Homo sapiens: one gene and its partner. The protein of the gene in region 1 interacts with the protein of each later gene in a biochemical or structural test. Each region holds a gene or a part of one and is shown on either strand. Other genes may lie near its edges.

Region 1 (3,647 bases):
CTGCAAATAGCACCAGGTACAGTCTGTGTTTGTATACGTTTTGATAAATTTTAACTTCTTGTAATAGATTTGTGTACATTTTATGGCAGTAAATGGTAAAACAGACAAGTATCTACATATATTTCACGCCTTCGTGACATACCTTTTTCTTAATTTTTTCAGTATTTTTTTTTTCGAGACGGAGTCTTGCTCTGTCGCCCAGGCAGGAGTGCAGTGGTATGATCTCAGCTCACTGCAACCTCTGCCTCCTGGATTCAAACAATTCCCCTGCCTCAGCCTCCCAAGTAGCTGGGATTCCAGGCATGGCCACCATGCCCAGCTAACTTTTGTACTTTTAGTATTTTTAGCAGAGACGAGGTTTCACCACGTTGGCCAGGCTGGTCTCGAACTCCTGACCTCAAGTGATCCGCCCGCCTCAGCCTCTCAGAATGCTTGGATTACAGGCGTGAGCCACCGTGTCCAGCCAATTTTTTCAATATTTCTAGGCTACATGGTTCGTCAGTGAGATTTTTCAAATTGTTGCAAATCTCCAAAAAATTTTCCAATGTATTTATCGGAAAAAAAAAAGCCACATAAAAGTGGACCCATGCATTTCAAACCTATATTATTCAAGGTCAGCTGTACATAGCTAAACAACTAATATGACTGTAGACATAAACCAATTTTTGGACCACAGATTTCCATGAGAAATACATTCCATGTTCCTATAGAACAATGCCATTATTGTATCTCCTTCCAGTACAGCCCCTGAAACATAAGCTCTTTGTCCCTCGAACATCTGTAAAAGGGAAATTTCCTTGTCCTTCCCTATACTAGTGAAGCCAGAGTGAGAGAGAAACAAATAATGAGAATGTCCTGCAGACGAAGAATAATTTATTGTTTAGAACATGGTTTTCAAGCTATCTTCCATGGAATCTAAGATTCTACCAAGATGCTTTGTTTTTGTTGGTTTTATTAGAATAAGATTTTGTTGTTAAAAAAAAAAATGAGCCTTGTTGCTAAAAGAAAAAAGTCCAAAGACTTTGAGAATATTGACTTTCAGGGGGTTACCAGTTTGAATAGTTTTCTTAAAATATGAAGAAAAAATTCATGACATTATTATCTTATCCATGTTCCTAGGAAATGCCACAAGCCAAATTTAAAATTTGAAAGTGGCTTTAAAAGAATACATGAATATGACTAATCCCTGCTCATTAAAAGTGAAATCTATACAGACAGTGGCATCGTGTGTAAGTGGTTATGATGTGCTCAGTTTGTGTGAATACTGTTCTGGAAAACCTGAAGTCACATTTATGTTTGTAGTCACAATCCTGTTTCAATGAAGTTGAACGCAGTTATCTTTCTTCCATTAAAATGTCACTCTTTATGCTAAACTAATTTTCTCTGAGAACTAAGTTTGTTTTGAAATTTTATAGTTTATGTTCTCCACTTTGGTGAATTTAACAAGTTTGAAAATTCACACTGAAGTAGTTTTTGTGAACACGTAGGTATACTGAGGGGATGACAGTCATTTAGATTTATATCTATGAATCTGTGATTATATCTAAATTTAAATCTAGACATATCAAGTCTTTAAAAGGGATTTCTGAAAGTCAAGTCCAAAGAATATGCCAAATTTATCTCCCATTCACAGCCAACAAAACATCCATCTTCCACAAAAACCACCAGCCAGGTGCAGTGGCTCACGCCTGTAATCCAAGCACTTTGGGAGAGGCAGATCACTTGATACCAGGAGTTCAAGACCAGCCTGGGCAACAAATTAAGACCTGGTCTCTACAAAAAGTTTAGATTAGCTGGGCATAGTGGTGCGTACCTGTGGTCTCAGTTACTCAAGAGTAAGTGGGCAGATCGCTTGAGCCTAGGAGTTTGAGGCTGCAATGAACTAAGATTACACCACTGCACAGGGCAAGACCCTGTCTCAAAATAAAATGAAAATTCCTGCAACCATATAACCTCCACAGAGAGGGCTTGATGCTTGCAGTTTTTGCTTGCAATAGTTAAAATATTATATTAACATAAGTATTTATATTTATGATGAACATCACGCTAACATTGTAGAAGAAAACCCATGAATGAATTCTTCCTGTTAGGAGTTTCTGACTGGCAGGTACTGAAGTCACTTGTTAATGCCAGGTCATTCTCTCTCCAGTATGCTGTTATTTGCAGTTAAGAACAGATGAGAAAAGAGGAATGACCACAGAAGTCTCCCTCTCAACTGAGAGCTTAATATCAGTACCTTTACCACAGTAATCTTAATGGCTACATGGAAATAAAAAAAAAAACACTAAATTATTATAAAAGCACTGGGCACCAATCTAGACATTCTGATGTTTTTAGTAATACACTTACCAGTAAGTGCCTGCCCCCTGGGAAGTTAGATCCATTCCATCTACACCATAGCTATCATCATCCATAATCTTGGACAGACCAAAATCAGTGATTTTGATTTCACCACATGCTGTTCCATCTACCAGTAGGATGTTTCCTAAGAATAAAATATAAGATTCTTTTAATGATACATACATGAAAAACATAACTTTAATAACTTTTAATTTTACTAGTATTTTACTGATGTCTTACAAGAGAAACCAAAAAACATGTTTTCAGATAACTTAATGAATGACTTTTAAAAACTATACTCAAGTTTAAAAAAAATTAGACAAATTTCATAATTACCTGGCTTAAGATCATAATGTATAATAGGGGGTTTGATCTCATTGAGATATCTTAGTGCATTTACAATCTGCATTACAATAGACCGAGCTTCTTTCTCTGACATTAACTTGTGTTGCTTCAGATAGAAATCCAAGTCATTGCCTTCACAGTATTCTAACACTGTACAAAACCTACAACAGAGAAGAGAAAAAAATTAGACATAAGTAATATCCAAGAATTCAGAATCACAATGGGGAAATGGAGAGTATTTATATCATCAACACAGGATGGGGAAAGAGAAAGCAAGCATATCTTTCCTTAAAAATTGAACCTTAATATTCACTTACGTATCTGTATCCAAGGAGAAATAATCATAGAGTTTAACTATTCTGGGGTGATCCAGTTCTTTGTGTATTCTATACTCTCTGCAGGCATGTCTATGAGAAGACAGTGTATTAATTCTCCATGATCATTCAAAAAATATTCAATTTTAAAAAACCATAAAGTATTAGTATTTACTTGTGGTAGTTTTCTTTCTTCTCATCTCTCCAGCTTTTATTAAGCTGATGTATCTTCACAGCAGCATATCTTTGTTCATAAAGGTCAAAAGCCTAGGATTTCAAGTCAAAAACAATTAAGATGAAAGACCAATTGAATAGCTGAAGAGATGTTTTTTATTTTGGTGATAATTTTTGCAATAATATGGAATTAGGACAAACCCTACAATTATTAATGATCTTCTCTGCTAAGACTATATATAGCTCAATGACACTTTTATTATCAGAAGACAGAAATTCCATGGTAATAAATCAGAGAAAACCTTAATGTGAATTTTCACATTAAATTTTATAAATGCCAATATACTGAATAAAAATAAAACAATAAAGCTATTATTTGTTTTTAATATGGACTTATTCCTCTATACTAGTAGTAAGCAGCCAGGAAAACAGATGACTGTACCACTTTTTTTGTAGGTTGGATAAAACCTTTTA
Region 2 (3,647 bases), on another chromosome or scaffold:
ATTTGCATGGTCAGTTAGAAAAATCCCACTGTAATGCTCGAGTTAGTCAAAACAAACTGCTTTAAGAGTTATTGAGATTCCCTCGTCACAATTTCTGTTGGAATTTTTTTAATGCGGTTTAGCACAGTATAGGCAAGCGCTTGCTTTTCTTCCCCCAGAGCCACAGCACCCCAAAATTGGAAACTCGGAGAGATGCCTGTGTCAACAACGTTTGCCAAGATGAGCTACCTCCCAGTTGCTGAAGACACCCCCCTCGTTAGAGGAGTCTGCTGGCCGCAGAGAAGGGAGTGCTGGCTCAGAGACATAAATGCTTTTTTGGTTAGACAGGTCAACATCTCTCCCTCCAGAGTAATTCATGATGACCAGCCAGATGCGAGGACAAAAATGTCCAACTGCCTCTGATGAGCACAATCGGCTCATTTCACCTCAACAGGATTGGGCCTGCTATTATTTTATTTATAATATAGATTTATAATTTCATTAGCTTGCCATTTCATCTATTTAATGTATCATTTTTAAAAGAGAATTAGTTCTTGCCTCATGCAGGGAGCACATCGAAGAAAAACATTAGCATAAAAAGGACGGGAAGACAGAGACAGAGTACACCAGCAGTTTCTAGTCGGGCGAGGCTGTGTAATTTGACCTGTTCATTTACATCTGGGCTGGATTTCTAATTAAAATGCATGTATACCTTCATTAAGGCGGCATATAACGTTTCAGTCGAATCGCACTGAGATGGAGTCAACTGTGGGCATCTCTCTACCTGGCTGCACATCTGTATCTATGATTTTAGGTCAAACAAACACCAGTTTTAATGTCCAGAGTTACCCGGAGAAGCAGAACACTTCCCACGAGGTGGAAAGGAGGCTGGCATCTCTCTCTTTTTTCCCTGCAAGTCTATGGTATGCTTTGTCATGGCTAGATTAGGTCAGATGTGAAAACTGCCCTGAGAGATTCCTGCTCCAGAATGGCCCTCATCAATTCAGCTAATCTTTGGCTAATGTGATTTACCTGCAGCAGCTGCAGAATGACAAGGGCCAATAACGATGTCCCTTCCCAGCTAATATTCGACTTGGCTCGGGCAGCGCAGGATCTCAGACCCCTGGCTTCCAAACCACACTGACGGGGGCTTGGGGGCGAGTGTATGCTGCTGCCACCACTCAGGCCGCCCCTGTCAAGGTGGCTTCTGCCAAGCCAGGGCCAGTGGTGGCCTCCCTACTGCCAAGGGCAACAGTCCTTTCAAGGCACAGAACAACCTTTGCTATGCTTCTCCCTGCCCCAAATGACCATTTCTGTAGGGAAAGGGAGAGCATGAAGGGAAAGCACACCCAGCCTCAGAGGAGGAGAAGAAGGAGAGGGAGGAGGAAGAGGAGGAGAAGAAGGAGAGGGAGGAGGAAAAGGAGGATGAAGAGGATGAGGGGGAAGAGGAGGAGAAGAAGGAGAGGGAGGAGGAAGAGGAGGAGAAGAAGGAGAGGGAGGAGGAAGAGGAGGATGAAGAGGGGGAGGAGGAGGAAGAGGAGGAGAAGAAGGAGAGGGAGGAGGAAGAGGAGGATGAAGGGAGGAGGAGCAAGAGGAGGAGAAGAGGAGGAGGAAGAAGAGAAGGAGGAGAGGAGGGAGGGGAAGGAGGAGGAAGAGGAGGAGGAGGAGGATAAGGGGAGGGAGAGGGGGAGGAACATGCATACCTTAAACTGCCTGGCCAGGTGTTGCTTATGACTCTCCTCCACCTGTTTGAACTTGGACTCCAGTCCTTTCATTTGGTTCTCCATCTTCTCCACGTACTGCAAGTCTCTCTGGGTCCGCCTGTCCAAGACCTCTATGGATTGAGACATGTTCTGCACCTGTCAAAAGGGCAACAGGTTCAGCAAAACAGCCGCAGTAGGTGCCAGGCAATCTTCTCTGCCTGCTCGTACAGACATTGCCCTTTCCCACACAGCCAGCACACTGGGAACCAGAAGTGGCCCATGCATTATTTACAAGGTAATCGCCAGCATCGCGGACTGTGAGGACTGATAACTCCCCAAACACAGCAAATTGGTTGGGTAAACATTTTCTTTGCCAACCTGTTCTTATCATCAGGGATGCAAATCAGGGGTGTAGGAGACTCAAGTTCCGTTATTCGCTGTAGCTCCAGGCACAGGCTGGGTGATTTCTCTTGATCTCTCTCTCTCTCTTTTTTTTTTTTTTTTGGTAGTGGTGGGTGGGGATTGTTCCTAGTCTTTCTGTTGCAGGACAACATTAGTTAGGCAAGCATAAACACCAGCAGAGAGGAATGGCACTCTTAGGCTGCCCCGCCCCCAGGTATAAATTCTCCTTCTTCCTAAATCTCATTGACTGTCTTGCTGATAAGGTTGATTACTTAAGTGCAGAGTGAAGGAACAAGGGAGCTGCTCTCCCTGACTCTGCATCAAGCTTTTTTCCCTATCTGCTATGCCATCCATCACACCCCACAGTATCATAGGTAGATGACTGCTCTGCAAACATGTACATTCTGAGCATAGAGTCAGGAATCAATCACCCAGCAAATGAAGAATCGCTGTTTTACATCTTTACAGGCAGATCTGAATTGAGTCTAGCCTCAAGATGGAACTTTAATATTCAACAGGATTCCAGGGAGCTTAAAAGAAAAACAGTTTTAGTGCAGCCACCTGCCAGTGCATTTTATTTGCAGGAAACTGGTGTGTGCTTCTGTGCAAATGCATTCGGGGCTGCGGGGAGGCGGGAGGAAGCTGAGGATTGCTGCAGTGGTGTTTGGGTCATTTTCTCAGAATCTAATCCAATTACTAGAGAGGAAGTTACCTCCATGACAGCAAATCTTCACTCCTGACTTTTCTGCTGAATTTGAAAATACTCTCCCTTCTAGGAACAAAATCATTTGGGGATGAGGCTTAGCTTTGCCGGTCAGTGTGAAAAGAGGACAGTGTGGTTTCTACTTCTTACTATACATCCTCCACCCCGCCAAATAAAGTAAAATACAAGAGAGCAAACCAAGCCTCCTCAGTAGAAGGAAAACCACTATTGCCAATCTCAGCACCCCAAAATGCAAGGAATTTCATATCTTGTTATCAGAAAGTAACACACACAAACTCATCTTGAAATTTTAAGTTTGTAAAGTACACGACGGGGTGGCTTCAGCTCCCTCTCACCCCTTCTCTTCCCCGAGAAACGGAAGCATACCTCTAATACCACCTGCCTGATTCTCTTGTTGTCTTCCTCTGTCACTTTGAATAACTACAGCACCTTTTTCAAGAAAAGATGTAAAGTTTGTCTATATTCGTCCTTCAAGGCCCAGCCCAAATGCCACCTCCTCCAGGGAGGCTTCTCTGATGGACTGAGTTAAAACTAGCTGCAAACTATTTGGAAACAACAACGTCACTTTGTTGGCACAATGTCTGCCTAGGAGTGAGCCACACAGCTGTCCCCCCACAGCTTTCCGGACAGGATGCTCATGGGGGGAGTGACACTGGGTCTCATCCACATCTGTAACCCCTGCACAAAGTCCAGTAAATCTAGTGCACGGGAGTAGCTCCTGCAGCCACATGGCCGGAGGAAGCAACAATACAAATGGCGGCGCCAGTCCAGACCCCTCTCTCCATTCCCCTCCTGGCAAAATCCCCAGGAGCGAAGGCCCACAAGTGCCGAGGAGAAGC

The links. Proteins that work in one complex are often made in the same cells at the same time.
Region 2: the proteins of TLK1 (region 1) and OLFM1 form a complex in vitro, tested with the Homo sapiens proteins (one large-scale study listed by BioGRID).

The regions. Positions count from the first base shown.
Region 1 is NC_000002.12:171,003,798-171,007,444, forward strand, and holds part of TLK1 (serine/threonine-protein kinase tousled-like 1), read right to left. Parts: intron 3,267-3,647; coding exon 3,175-3,266; intron 3,093-3,174; coding exon 3,003-3,092; intron 2,847-3,002; coding exon 2,677-2,846; intron 2,486-2,676; coding exon 2,350-2,485; intron 1-2,349. UniProt on the Homo sapiens protein: Rapidly and transiently inhibited by phosphorylation following the generation of DNA double-stranded breaks during S-phase. This is cell cycle checkpoint and ATM-pathway dependent and appears to regulate processes involved in chromatin assembly.
Region 2 is NC_000009.12:135,094,055-135,097,701, reverse strand, and holds part of OLFM1 (noelin isoform 4 precursor), read right to left. Parts: intron 1,839-3,647; coding exon 1,683-1,838; intron 1-1,682. UniProt on the Homo sapiens protein: Contributes to the regulation of axonal growth in the embryonic and adult central nervous system by inhibiting interactions between RTN4R and LINGO1. Inhibits RTN4R-mediated axon growth cone collapse.